Homo sapiens: one gene and its partner. The protein of the gene in region 1 interacts with the protein of each later gene in a pairwise test. Each region holds a gene or a part of one and is shown in the gene's direction. Other genes may lie near its edges.

What was found. Proteins that work in one complex are often made in the same cells at the same time.
Region 2: the proteins of TMPRSS4 (region 1) and BNIP3L interact in binary tests that used the Homo sapiens proteins (3 or more experiments, as listed by UniProt).

The regions. Positions count from the first base shown.
Region 1 is NC_000011.10:118,108,049-118,115,078, forward strand, and holds part of TMPRSS4 (transmembrane protease serine 4), read left to right. Parts: intron 1-807; coding exon 808-848; intron 849-2,003; coding exon of another isoform or gene 2,004-2,185; exon of another isoform or gene 2,186-2,349; intron 2,350-3,692; coding exon 3,693-3,852; intron 3,853-5,220; coding exon 5,221-5,387; intron 5,388-5,874; coding exon of another isoform or gene 5,875-6,002; exon of another isoform or gene 6,003-6,017; intron 6,018-6,780; coding exon 6,781-6,879; intron 6,880-7,030. UniProt on the Homo sapiens protein: Plasma membrane-anchored serine protease that directly induces processing of pro-uPA/PLAU into the active form through proteolytic activity.
Region 2 is NC_000008.11:26,393,046-26,400,075, forward strand, and holds part of BNIP3L (BCL2/adenovirus E1B 19 kDa protein-interacting protein 3-like), read left to right. Parts: intron 1-2,184; coding exon 2,185-2,257; intron 2,258-7,030.

The DNA.
Region 1 (7,030 bases):
GAGAGGTTTTCTGTGTTGACTTGTTTTTAATACAATGGACAGCTGGACAAAGTGTGTTGTCCTACTCAGAGCCAGAGGGATGGATAATGTGACCTTTCCATCAATCTGGATAGTAAATAGTTTTTGCTACTGCTGTAGGTTTTCTAATAAATTGCCCAATAGGCAAGATTCCAAAGTCACTTTGTCCTTCCCTACCACTTACCCAGCCAGAGCTCCCCACCTTCTTGATGCTCCAGGGAAGAGGCTCCATGGCCCTTGTGGGTGGCCTGTTCCTGAGCCTCGCCACCCTGTGTTAGAGCAGAGCATCCAGATGAAATCTGTCACACTGTGGCAAAGTGGCTCAGAGAGGAGGCTGGCTTCCTAGCATTCAGGGACGTTGCTGAGGGCCGCTTATTCACCGAAAATAAATCTTGAAAAGGACAGGGCTGGTAGCAGAATGATCCTTTACCTAAAATTCTATCAAAATCCCATTCTTCCATTTGGAAAGCCCACAGTGTCACAGACTCTGTTCCGGGCTCTGTCCTCTTCCCTCTTGGGTCCCAGGAGCCCAGGCTGGGCTTTGAAGCAGGCAGGGCCCAGCACACAGTAGGTACTCAGCAGTGGGGGTGTTGAATCCAATCAAACGGAAGTGTCAATGCAGGAAATGCAATGGATGTCAATGCAGTCTCCAAATGTTCCCCACTGTGCAGCTTCCACATTCCCGAGGTATTGGGAGGGGACTTGAATTAACAGCTTCGGGAGGCCTGAGTCCCTGCCTCCCAGCTGAGGAAGAAGCTTAAATCACAGGGCGCTGTGTCTGTCTTCCAGGCCCTGTCTCTCAGGCTCCCTGGTCTCCCTGCACTGTCTTGGTGAGTACCCCCAATCTCTGAGGGTTTGGGGCCTGGGCCAGCAATGAGCAGGGAGGAAGACCTTCATCTTCACTCCTAAATTTCTGGGACTCCAAGTTTCATTCTGCCTTGGTCTACAGCCCTTGGGCTTGTCGGTCAATGCCCCCTCGAGTTGTTGGTGGCCTTGGGCAGGTCACATTCTTTTTCTGGGTCTTTCCAAGCCCCAGTTTCCCCCTTCTACCATCTGTGCATGGCTCCATGACCTAAGTGGAGACCTGGGAGAGAGTGTTAGGAAGACCGAAAAGGGCAGGACGGGGCCTCCACTGCCTCCCATCCCTGGTCCGGGCCCACATAGCCTTCTTTGTCACAATCAGCTCAGGTATCCAAGATCAGATTACCCACATTCATTATTTGAGCAACTATTCATTGAACAGTTAGAATATGTCTCACTCTGTCAGTTGCTGGCTAGAAGTAGAAAGTACCAGATGAGTGAAATAATTGGCCACTATCCTTGGTAGCTGATGACTAAGTAAGAGAGAGATGCAAGACAACATGTGGAAAATGCCAAACTGAGTAGCAGTCACAGTTGACATGCTGCAGAGAGAGCTGGCCGGGGGTCAGAAGACCTGGGCACCAGTCCTGTTCATTTCCAGTGTGGCCTCGAGTCATTCACCTGACCTCCCTGAAGTTCATTTTCCCAAGAAGTTGTTTAGTCCAACTGCCCATCAAGGATCTTTAGGGACCCTTCTAGCTCTAACAGAGGAGATCAGAAAAGAAAACAAGCAATGTGGCTCAGCTCATCCTACAAGCTTCATAGAGAACTGAGACTGGCCTGGAAGCATAGCCAGAAATTAGAACGCCTAAGGGAAGAAGGTCACAACGCTGCCTCTGCAATTTAGGAGTGTATATGCTTTCCTGCAGGATGTTGAGAGTTTCATTCATTATCGTATGCCCCCTACCCCGGCCCCACAATACCTAGTGCGTGGGATCTGACACGTGGTGGCTGGTCAATGAATGAATGAATGAATGGTCACACCATCTGAGGTTCTGCACTGAGTAGCCCTGAAGGCTTGAAGCAGCATAAGTGACAGGTCCTCCCTTGAGGGGCCTCTGTTTTACCAATAAGCCAAGACCTAAGCTCAACAACACTGAAAGGGTGGCCAATACCCAGGACAGCCTGTGGGAATTCCAGAGAAAGGGAGATTCCCAGGGACTGGGGGCCCAGGCTAAACACTGAAAAATGCATCTGTAGGCTCAAGGAGGAAAAGCCCATGTCTGTCTGTCTTGCCCACCACTCTCTCCCAGCACCCAGCACTGCCCCAGGACAGAGAGCACTTGACACAAGTTGGTTAGATTAATGAATGATTTAGAGTTCAGTGGTCCCCAACCTTTTTGGCACAAGAGACTGGTTGCATGGAAGACAATTTTTCCGCAAACCAAGAGGGGGATAGAGAGCATTAGATTCTCTCTTTTTTTTTTTTTTGAGACCAAGTCTGGCTCTTGTCACTCAGCCTGGAGTAAAGTGTTGCGATCTCGGCTCACTGCAACCTCCGCCTCCTGGATTCAAGCGATTCTCCTGCCTCAGCCCCCTAAATAGCTGGGATTACAGGCACCCGTCACCAGCCCAGCTGGGACTATAGGCATGTGCCACCATGCCCGGCTAATTTTTGTATTTTTAGTAGAGACGGCGTTTCACCATGTTGGCCAGGCTAGTCTCGAACTCCTGACCTCAGGTGATCTGCCCGCCTGAGCCTCCCAAAGTGCTGGGATTACAGGCATGAGCTGCCTCACCCAGCCTAAAGTCTCATAAGGAACGTACAGCATAGATCCCTCACATGTGCAGTTCACAATAAGGTTGTGCTCCTACAAGAATCTAACGCCACCTCTGATCTGACAGGAGGTGAAGCTCAGGTGGTCATGCTCGCTTGTCCCTGCCACTCACTTCCTAATGTACAGCCAGGTTCCTAACAGGCCACGAACCAGTGGGAAGGGCATCTTTTTGGATCAAAAACAGAATTACTTTTTAGAGAACTACAAGCAGATCAATTTGGCTAGACAGAGACTTTATATGAAACAGCAGGAGGCTGCTAGGAGGAGTGGAAACTCTACTTTGCCCTCAAGGGAGATCCCGAAGGGCTTTGCAGGAGCGGGCAAGGTGGCATGAAGAAAGCAGTGTTTGAAATCAGGTGGTATTTGAAAAGCCCAGCCCTTCCCCTTAGAATGGCCCTTCTACCATCTGTGCATGGCTCCACAACCGTGGTGGTGGCTGCCAGAAGAATTGGAAAGGCAGAGCATGGGTGGAGAGGGGGGACCTGAGGGCTTTACAGGAGTTCCGGGGGTGGTGAGGGTGTGAAAGCCAGGTCAGTCAGTAGGAAGACAGGATGTCAGATTGAGAGACTCCCCTGGCCGGGGAAACAGACTTGGAGAAGGGGGAGTTTTGGATGAGACAGTCCACTTCCGAGTCACAAAATAGCTTGTGGGTGTCTGTTTACTGTTACTCAGTGGGAGTGGCTGGGGACACGCCACCTGGGCAGGGCTTTCGTAATTCTGCATCACTTGTGAAGGTCACAGATTCCCAGCACAACGGACACACCCATGTTCATAGTCTGAACTCCTAAACACATCTTAAACCAAAATAAAAAAAAAAGAAAGAAAGAAAGAAAAAGGAGAGGGAGGTTTGAGGAAAGCCTATGGTCTGGGACACTCAATACCTCCCATGAATATCTCATATTGGGCTGGTCCTCTCTCCACTCTGGCCCCAGCCATAAGGGCCCTGCTTAGAGCAGATTTTGGGTGCTGAGTGGAGGCAGCCTCATCCCCAACAGCCTGACTTCCTGCCTCCTCCCTGCCTCTGCCTGTGTCCAGCCTGTGGGAAGAGCCTGAAGACCCCCCGTGTGGTGGGTGTGGAGGAGGCCTCTGTGGATTCTTGGCCTTGGCAGGTCAGCATCCAGTACGACAAACAGCACGTCTGTGGAGGGAGCATCCTGGACCCCCACTGGGTCCTCACGGCAGCCCACTGCTTCAGGTAAGACCCCAGCTGTAAGGAGGTCTCTGGGGACCAAGGCCAGTCAGGGACCAGAGAGCTTGGGGTCCTGTCTCCTGGCACCGTCCTTCTCTTCACTCTCCCACTAGAGACGTTTTCCAGGTTGTGGTGGCCCCAATGAGACAATGGCCATGATGCCCTTTGTTAGGCTTTTGGGTGTCTGAGCAGAGGGTGCTGGTCACCAAGCATGGCCTCTTCCTGGTGGGACACCAGCAGATACCCAGAGTCCTCACCCCACCCCCATATCGTTCAAGCTACAAAAGCTCTTCCCACCTGCCTCAACTTCCAAGAACTCACTCTCTTTTTGCTTGTTTCCAGGAAGTTGTTCCAGGGTCTAGAGTCATAGCCACGTCCTCATTATGTCTGGAAACTTTAAAAAAATTAAAGAGCATAGGTTCCTTTCAGTCCACAGAGAAGCCTGGCCTTACCTCAGGGAAGGGCTACTCCCAGACCCCCTTCACTTTTTTTTTTTTTTTTTTTTTTTTTTTTTTTGAGACAGAGTCTTGCTCTGTTGCTTAGGCTGGAGCGCAGCAGCATGATCTTGGCTCACTGCAACCTCCGCCTCCTGAGTTCAAGCAATTCTCCTGCCTCAGCTTCCCAAGTAGCTGGGACTATAGGCATGGGCCACCATGCCCGGCTAATTTTTGTATTTTTGGTAGAGACAGGGTTTCACCATGTTGGCCAGGCTGATCTCTAACTCCTGACCTCAAGTGATCTGCCCACCTCAGCCTCCCAAACTGCTGGGATTACAGGCATGAGCCAGGGCATCCGGCTTTTATTTATTCATTCATTCAATATCTAATGAGCACCTACCAGGTACCAAACACCAGATGATGCGCCCAAGTTCATTAGACCCCACCGCTGTCTTCAAGGCACTCATGATCTAGGCCAGCGTTTTTTAACCACTTTTTTTTTTTTTTTTTTTGAGATTCTGGTGAGAGCTATAAATTCTTTCCTGGAAAAACATCTCTGCACACTAAGCTGTGCCTGGCATTGGGAAAAAGAAAGCACGTAATGTAACTGACAGCATGAGTAACACAGTGAGAAAGGTTGGAGGAGAGAGCGCCAGGACCTCAGAACTCAGGCATTAGAGGAGCCCCTTCCCCAGCCCTCCTTGAGGTTTCGTTGGGCAGGTTTCACTGAGGAAAAAGGGTCAAATCCCTTTTTCGAATTTGACTTCTTGTAAGTGCCAGAAGACTGCCCCTTCTCCACCATCCCTGCCTCACCATCATCTTTCCTCCCAAGGCAGTGACATCCAGCACCCCGATCCCTAGGGCCCTGGGGACCCAGCCTTTGGCAAAGTCTCCTCAGGCTTGGATCAGGCCTGAACCCAGCTGTCTCTACCCCCAGGAAACATACCGATGTGTTCAACTGGAAGGTGCGGGCAGGCTCAGACAAACTGGGCAGCTTCCCATCCCTGGCTGTGGCCAAGATCATCATCATTGAATTCAACCCCATGTACCCCAAAGACAATGACATCGCCCTCATGAAGCTGCAGTTCCCACTCACTTTCTCAGGTGAGAAGCAGGGCCCAAGGCCACTCAAGCCTCTTACATCAGTTTTCACGCCCACTCTGCTATTAGCTCACTGACCGCCCTTGGCACATAATGTCTCCTCTCAAGTCCTCAGCTTGCCCATTTGTCTCTAATACGTCAGCCTAACATCACTGATGCCATGAGGCCTCCTCAAGCTGTCAGCTAACACCTCCACTCCATTCCCTGCCAGAGATTCTTCCAAGGCCTGTCTTCCCTATGTGGAGCCCCTCGAGTGAGAACTGGAGTTTCATCCAATCTTGGAGTTTTAGGAGACCTTTTAAAAAGATTATCGAGCTAATTCCCCACCACTGACCAACACGCAAGAGCCTGCTCAGTATCCCTGCCAAGGAGTCATTGTGCCCCTGTTTGCTCTCCTCCAGGGGCAGGGAACCCATTACCTGTGAGGCAGCCCACAGAGTCTTTGAACAGCTCTGTTGGATGCCTTGTGCTTATACTGAAATGTATTTAGATCAGGATTCCCAACTGTGGGGTCCACAAGACACTGGCCCCTTGGAGAAGAGAGGATTCCATTGTCAAATAAGTTTGGGGAACATTTTCATACTACAGCTCCCTTCTTGGAACACATTAGTTTATTAAAGGTAGGAGAAGTTTTTAAAATAATCTGTTTTATTGCGTTTAACCTACATTTTTTAAATTTATTTGACCACAGAATCCTTTTTTCATGCTACTTCTATTAGCATCCCATAGAACAAGTGTTCTAGAGACCCTGGTGTGACCCCTTTCAGAGAGCTTAACTGCCAGGCTCTCCTGAGCCCTGGTGTGTGTTTCAAGATTTGTGCCTGGGAATTGTTTTAATCAGGTATGGCAAGGTGACAGATACAGACACAGCTATCTTTGAAAGAAGAGTTTATTATTTATAATTCCTGAGAGAAAGGGACATACCCCACCCCCCAACACAGGGACACCCGGGGAAGCAGCTGGGTCCACCAGGAGGCAGGAGTGAGGGGAAGGCATGGCCCAGAGCCACCTGTGGCTTCCATGGGCAGGTCTGGCCAAGGTAGGGTAGGCAAGATTGAGCATGCTCAGGATTGGATAGTGTGGACAATTCTCTAGGCTATAGATGTCAGCCTCTGGTTGTCTAGTATCTGTCCCTGGGGTGATTTAGGGCAGGGAAAATATTGGCTTGGTGTCTGAGAGTCAGATAAAGGAAGTGGTTGGGGATATGGGCTTTGGGTTGGCTGGTTTGCCTATTAAAGGCGTGCCCAAAGCCAAGTTGTTTACTATCTGCAGGAATTAGCTAACCCAGTCTCTCCCAGACCAGCAAGATCCCCATAATCATAAAGCATCATAATTTACAGAAAATTAACACTTATGATGAATAAAAGATCTCCTTCTTCCTCTGTGCTCCTGGCAGGCACAGTCAGGCCCATCTGTCTGCCCTTCTTTGATGAGGAGCTCACTCCAGCCACCCCACTCTGGATCATTGGATGGGGCTTTACGAAGCAGAATGGAGGTAAGTCCTGGGTGCAGGACCACAGGGCAGGAGATGCCCTTGTATGAGGGAGCAGCTTCCAGAAGTAATGGGAAGGAGGACCACCCTTCAGAGAAACCCATCCTGGAGGACCAAGCACCAAGGCGCCAGGCAGAAAGCAAAGTGGTTTGGC
Region 2 (7,030 bases), on another chromosome or scaffold:
TATGTCTCTCCAGGCCCTAGATTAGTGGTCATCTTTCAGAGAATGGCTAGAACTCGAGTCTTCTGGGATAGCCTACTAACACGCTTTACCATTGAGGAGTGTCTTCAAAACTCACATCATCTGAATTGCCATGCGTCTCTATATGTGAAAAGTAATTGGAAAGTGTTTCTTGTAGGGGGAAATGTTTTAGGGTTGTTGGGTATCAGTCCTAGAGCTGATTTATGTATATTTTCAACTTAAAAATTATTCCATAGAAATATTTGTGTTGCCGCAGGGGTTGTTAGCTGGGAACCCCAGTGTGTTCTGCTTTGCCTTTCACCCTGTCACAGGGGTTTTCACCTTGACGGCACACTAGATTCACCCAGAAGCTTTTAAAAATGGCAGCACATGGACTGCATCTCAAGAACTTCTCATTTTGGTTGACAGGGGCAGGGTAGAGACGTCACAATATTTTAAAAGCTCCCCAGCCGATTCTAATATGTGCCATGGGTGAAGCTCTAATGCATTCCAAATTGTTAGGAGGAGTAAACAGTTTAGAGAAGAGGTTGGTACCAGTGTGAAGAAGCATATAGAAGCAGAGCAATGCTTCCATAGGATTCTTGACTTTGTCACCCTGACTGCCTTGACCTGGTCACGGCTATGTAAGGCTGACCCTTAACTTGATGTGTAGCTGTGAACCCAACAGTTATGAGCACAAAGATAGTAAACTGAGGCCAGTAGGAGTGCCCAGTTCGGGTTGACTCCTGTGCTAGTTCAAGACAAAAATTTCCTAAATATATATGACGTTGGTTTGATACAGAACCAGCTTTTCTGTTTTCCTGTCCCCATTTAAAAATCTCCTATGTCAATTATACTAGTCTAAAAGACTCCTAGGCCTAATCTGTCTGATAAATTTCTGACGATCTTATTTCTGAGTCAGTCTCACCAACGTCTCTATACATTAATTAACATTATATACATACTCTTGATAACTTTAATAGTTAATATCTATTCTTTTCAGCAAGTTAAGCCCCAAATATTTTTTATTTCTATTTTAGATTTTGGGGGAGGGTTTGTGTATGTAGTGAAGGATCCCCAGTGACTTTCAGTTTTTATACAAGAAATCATTAATAAAGCTAAGAAATTAACTTAGCACATTCTGTTCATCTCTTGTATCAAGTGCAGTTTGTGATCATGTTGTTTTTGTCTAAAAACTTATTTGTAAATTTTTACAGTTCTAAGAATGTATTTTGTGCAATCATAAAGGTTTTATATTAATATATAAGTTATATAATTCACTCTGAAATATCTCAAAGCAAATATTTCTGAAATAAGTAAAATAGTGGTTCTCAAAGTTTTTGGTCATTACATACCTTTACATTCTTAAAAATCATTAGGGACCCCAAAAAACTTGTTTGTGGGTTTATATATTTTGATATTTACTATATTAGAAATTAAAACTGAGAAAATATATATTCATTCAAAAATAATACATTTTAACATAAGTAGCATTTTTTAGTGAAAATACCTATTTTCTATAAACCCTCCAAGTTAATAAGAATAGTGGCATTGTTTTACACATTTACAAATCTCTAATACCAAGCTTAATAGAAGACAGCTGGTTCTCATCTGTGTTTGCATTCTAACTGTTGTGCTATCACACATCATGTAGCCTTTGGAAAATTCCACTATACACATGGGAGAATGAGAATGAAAAAGGCAAATAAATCCTACTAGTATTGAGAAAGGAACTGTAACCTCAAAGACCCTCTGAAAGCGTCTTTGAGAACTACCTTATGCACTTTGAGAACTACTGGTGAATTATTTAATGATGAGGGAACTTTGAGAAAAAGAACTCTGAAGTTCCTGAATTTGAAGATTATTTTACCTTTAGTGGACAAAAGAGTAAATATAAGAGAATGTGACAGTTTGTGTCTGTAGATAGTATTTCCTTTGCAAATTTATCATTTTGAAGGATTTCATTACTACTGAAAAAGTGCAGAACATTTTGGGAGTAAGAATGCTCAATTTCATTTAGCCTTTTAATATCACATAAATTTTTCTTGTATAGGGTTATGATATATTCTCTGATTTGCTTTTTCAAAGCCATACTGCTGTAACTTTTAATTTTCTAATTTCTAGTAGAGACTAAGTCATTTGACAAAGTGAGAATTAAAACTAATAGCTGAATTCCTTCTCTTCTAGCCCTTCGCCACAAGAAGATGGGCAGATCATGTTTGATGTGGAAATGCACACCAGCAGGGACCATAGCTCTCAGGTGTGTCGGGGGGATTCTGATTTACAGTAAACAATTAAGAAAGATGTAAATTCTCTAAGTATATTTTGCTAAAATAAATGTGAAGACTTTTAGGAATAGTTTGAAGCTATTATTGAGTTTCTGATTTTGGAATTTATTTAGGATGATATAGTTCTTGTCGCACTCCTTTACAACTAAGGATTTTGGGCCCTGTCACTCTAAACGAATTGGAAAATTCTTGTCCATAATAAATCATGCCAATACTCCAGGCTAGTTTCTTGAGTGTATAAGTAGAAAAAGACTGAGATAGATGCTTTAAGACCACAGAATAGGGAGGAGCCAAGATGGCTGAATAGGAACAGCTCCGGTCTACAGCTCCCAGCATGAGCGACGCAGAAGACGGGTGATTTCTGCATTTCCATCTGAGGTACCGGGTTCATCTCACTAGGGAGTGCCAGACAGTGGGCGCAGGCCAGTGGGTGCGCGCACCGTGCGCGAGCCGAAGCAGGGCGAGGCATTGCCTCACCTGGGAAGCGCAAGGGGTCAGGGAGTTCCCTTTCCGAGTCAAAGAAAGGGGTGACGGACGCACCTGGAAAATCGGGTCACTCCCACCCGAATATTGTGCTTTTCAGACCGGCTTAAAAAACGGCGCACCACGAGACTATATCCCACACCTGGCTCGGAGGGTCCTATGCCCACGGAATCTCGCTGATTGCTAGCACAGCAGTCTGAGATCAAACTGCAAGGCGGCAGCGAGGCTGGGGGAGGGGCGCCCGCCATTGCCCAGGCTTGCTTAGGTAAACAGAGCAGCCGGGAAGCTCGAACTGGGTGGAGCCCACCACAGCTCAAGGAGGCCTGCCTGCCTCTGTAGGCTCCACCTCTGGGGGCAGGGCACAGACAAACAAAAAGACAGCAGTAACCTCTGCAGACTTAAATGTCCCTGTCTGACAGCTTTGAAGAGAGCAGTGGTTCTCCCAGCACGCAGCTGGAGATCTGAGAACGGGCAGACTGCCTCCTCAAGTGGGTCCCTGACCCCTGACCCCCGAGCAGCCTAACTGGGAGGCACCCCCCAGCAGGGGCACACTGACACCTCACACGGCAGGGTATTCCAACAGACCTGCAGCTGAGGGTCCTGTCTGTTAGAAGGAAAACTAACAAACAGAAAGGACATCCACACCGAAAACCCATCTGTACATCACCATCATCAAAGACCAAAAGTAGATAAAACCACAAAGATGGGGAAAAAACAGAACAGAAAAACTGGAAACTCTAAAACACAGAGCGCCTCTCCTCCTCCAAAGGAACGCAGTTCCTCACCAGCAACGGAACAAAGCTGGATGGAGAATGATTTTGACGAGCTGAGAGAAGAAGGCTTCAGACGATCAAATTAGAGTGAGCTACGGGAGGACATTCAAACCAAAGGCAAAGAAGTTGAAAACTGAAAAAAATTTAGAAGAATGTATAACTAGAATAACCAATACAGAGAAGTGCTTAAAGGAGCTGATGGAGCTGAAAACCAAGGCTCGAGAACTACGTGAAGAATGCAGAAGCCTCAGGAGCCGATGCGATCAACTGGAAGAAAGGGTATCAGCAATGGAAGATGAAATGAATGAAATGAAGCAAGAAGGGAAGTTTAGAGAAAAAAGAATAAAAAGAAATGAGCAAAGCCTCCAAGAAATATGGGACTATGTGAAAAGACCAAATCTACGTCTGATTGGTGTACCTGAAAGTGATGCGGAGAATGGAACCAAGTTGGAAAACACTCTGCAGGATATTATCCAGGAGAACTTCCCCAATCTAGCAAGGCAGGCCAACGTTCAGATTCAGGAAATACAGAGAACGCCACAAAGATACTCCTCGAGAAGAGCAACTCCAAGACACATAATTGTCAGATTCACCAAAGTTGAAATGAAGGAAAAAATGTTAAGGGCAGCCAGAGAGAAAGGTCGGGTTACCCTCAAAGGGAAGCCCATCAGACTAACAGCGGATCTCTTGGCAGAAACCCTACAAGCCAGAAGAGAGTGGGGGCCAATATTCAACATTCTTAAAGAAAAGAATTTTCAACCCAGAATTTCATATCCAGCCAAACTAAGCTTCATAAGTGAAGGAGAAATAAAATACTTTACAGACAAGCAAATGCTGACCGATTTTGTCACCACCAGGCCTGCCCTAAAAGAGCTCCTGAAGGAAGCGCTAAACATGGAAAGGAACAACCGGTACCAGCTGCTGCAAAATCATGCCAAAATGTAAAGACCATCGAGACTAGGAAGAAACTGCATCAACTAACGAGCAAAATCACCAGCTAACATCATAATGACAGGATCAAATTCACACATAACAATATTAACTTTAAATGTAAGTGGACTAAATTCTGCAATTAAAAGACACAGACTGGCAAATTGGATAAAGAGTCAAGACCCATCAGTGTGCTGTATTCAGGAAACCCATCTCACGTGCAGAGACACACATAGGCTCAAAATAAAAGGATGGAGGAAGATCTACCAAGCAAATGGAAAACAAAAAAAGGCAGGGGTTGCAATCCTAGTCTCTGATAAAACAGACTTTAAACCAACAAAGATCAAAAGAGACAAAGAAGGCCATTACATAATGGTAAAGGGATCAATTCAACAAGAGGAGCTAACTATCCTAAATATATATGCACCCAATACAGGAGCACCCAGATTCATAAAGCAAGTCCTGAGTGACCTACAAAGAGACTTAGACTCCCACACATTAATAATGGGAGACTTTAACACCCCACTGTCAATATTAGACAGATCAACAAGACAGAAAGTCAACAAGGATACCCAGGAATTGAACTCAGCTCTGCACCAAGCAGACCTAATAGACGTCTACAGAACTCTCCACCCCAAATCAACAGAATATACATTTTTTTCAGCACCACACCACACCTATTCCAAAATTGACCACATAGTTGGAAGTAAAGCTCTCCTCAGCAAATGTAAAAGAACAGAAATTATAACAAACTATCTCTCAGACCACAGTGCAATCAAACTAGAACTCAGGATTAAGAATCTCACTCAAAGCCGCTCAACTACATGGAAACTGAACAACCTGCTCCTGAATGACTACTGGGTACATAACGAAATGAAGGCAGAAATAAAGATGTTCTTTGAAACCAACGAGAACAAAGACACAACATACCAGAATCTCTGGGACGCATTCAAAGCAGTGTGTAGAGGGAAATTTATAGCACTAAATGCCCACAAGAGAAAGCAGGAAAGATCCAAAATTGACACCCTAGCATCACAATTAAAAGAACTAGAAAAGCAAGAGCAAACACATTCAAAAGCTAGCAGAAGGCAAGAAATAACTAAAATCAGAGCAGAACTGAAGGAAATAGAGACACAAAAAACCCTTCAAAAAATCAATGAATCCAGGAGCTGGTTTTTTGAAAGGATCAACAAAATTGATAGACCGCTAGCAAGACTAATAAAGAAAAAAAGAGAGAAGAATCAAATAGACAAAAAATGATACTACAAACACCTCTACGCAAATAAACTAGAAAATCTGGAAGAAATGGATACATTCCTCGACACATACACTCTCCCAAGACTAAACCAGGAAGAAGTTGAATCTCTGAATAGACCAATAACAGGAGCTGAAATTGTGGCAATAATCAATAGTTTACCAACCAAGAAGAGTCCAGGACCAGATGGATTCACAGCCGAATTCTACCAGAGGTACAAGGAGGAACTGGTACCATTCCTTCTGAAACTATTCCAATCAATAGAAAAAGAGGGAATCCTCTGTAACTCATTTTATGAGGCCAGCATCATTCTGATACCAAAGCCGGGCAGAGACACAACCAAAAAAGAGAATTTTAGACCAATATCCTTGATGAACATTGATGCAAAAATCCTCAATAAAATACTGGCAAACCGAATCCAGCAGCACATCAAAAAGCTTATCCACCATGATCAAGTGGGCTTCATCCCTGGGATGCAAGGCTGGTTCAATATACACAAATCAATAAATGTAATCCAGCATATAAACAGAGCCAAAGACAAAAACCACATGATTATCTCAATAGATGCAGAAAAAGCCTTTGACAAAATTCAACAACCCTTCATGCTAAAAACTCTCAATAAATTAGGTATTGATGGGACGTATTTCAAAATAATAAGAGCTATCTATGACAAACCCACAGCCAATATCATACTGAATGGGCAAAAACTGGAAGCATTCCCTTTGAAAACTGGCACAAGACAGGGATGCCCTCTCTCACCGCTCCTATTCAACATAGTGTTGGAAGTTCTGGCCAGGGCAATCAGGCAGGAGAAGGAAATAAAGGGTATTCAATTAGGAAAAGAGGAAGTCAAATTGTCCCTGTTTGCAGATGACATGATTGTTTATCTAGAAAACCCCATTTTCTCAGCCCAAAATCTCCTTAAGCTGATAAGCAACTTCAGCAAAGTCTCAGGATACAAAATCAATGTACAAAAATCACAAGCATTCCTATACACCAACAAGAGACAAACAGCCAAATCATGAGTGAACTCCCATTCACAATTGCTTCAAAGAGAATAAAATACCTAGGAATCCAACTTACAAGGGATGTGAAGGACCTCTTCAAGGAGAACTACAAACCACTGCTCAAGGAAATAAAAGAGGATACAAAGAAATGGAAGAACATTCCATGCTCATGGGTAGGAAGAATCAATATCGTGAAAATGGCCATACTGCCCAAGATAATTTACAGATTCAGTGCCATCCCCATCAAGCTACCAATGACTTTCTTCACAGAATTGGAAAAAACTACTTTAAAGTTCA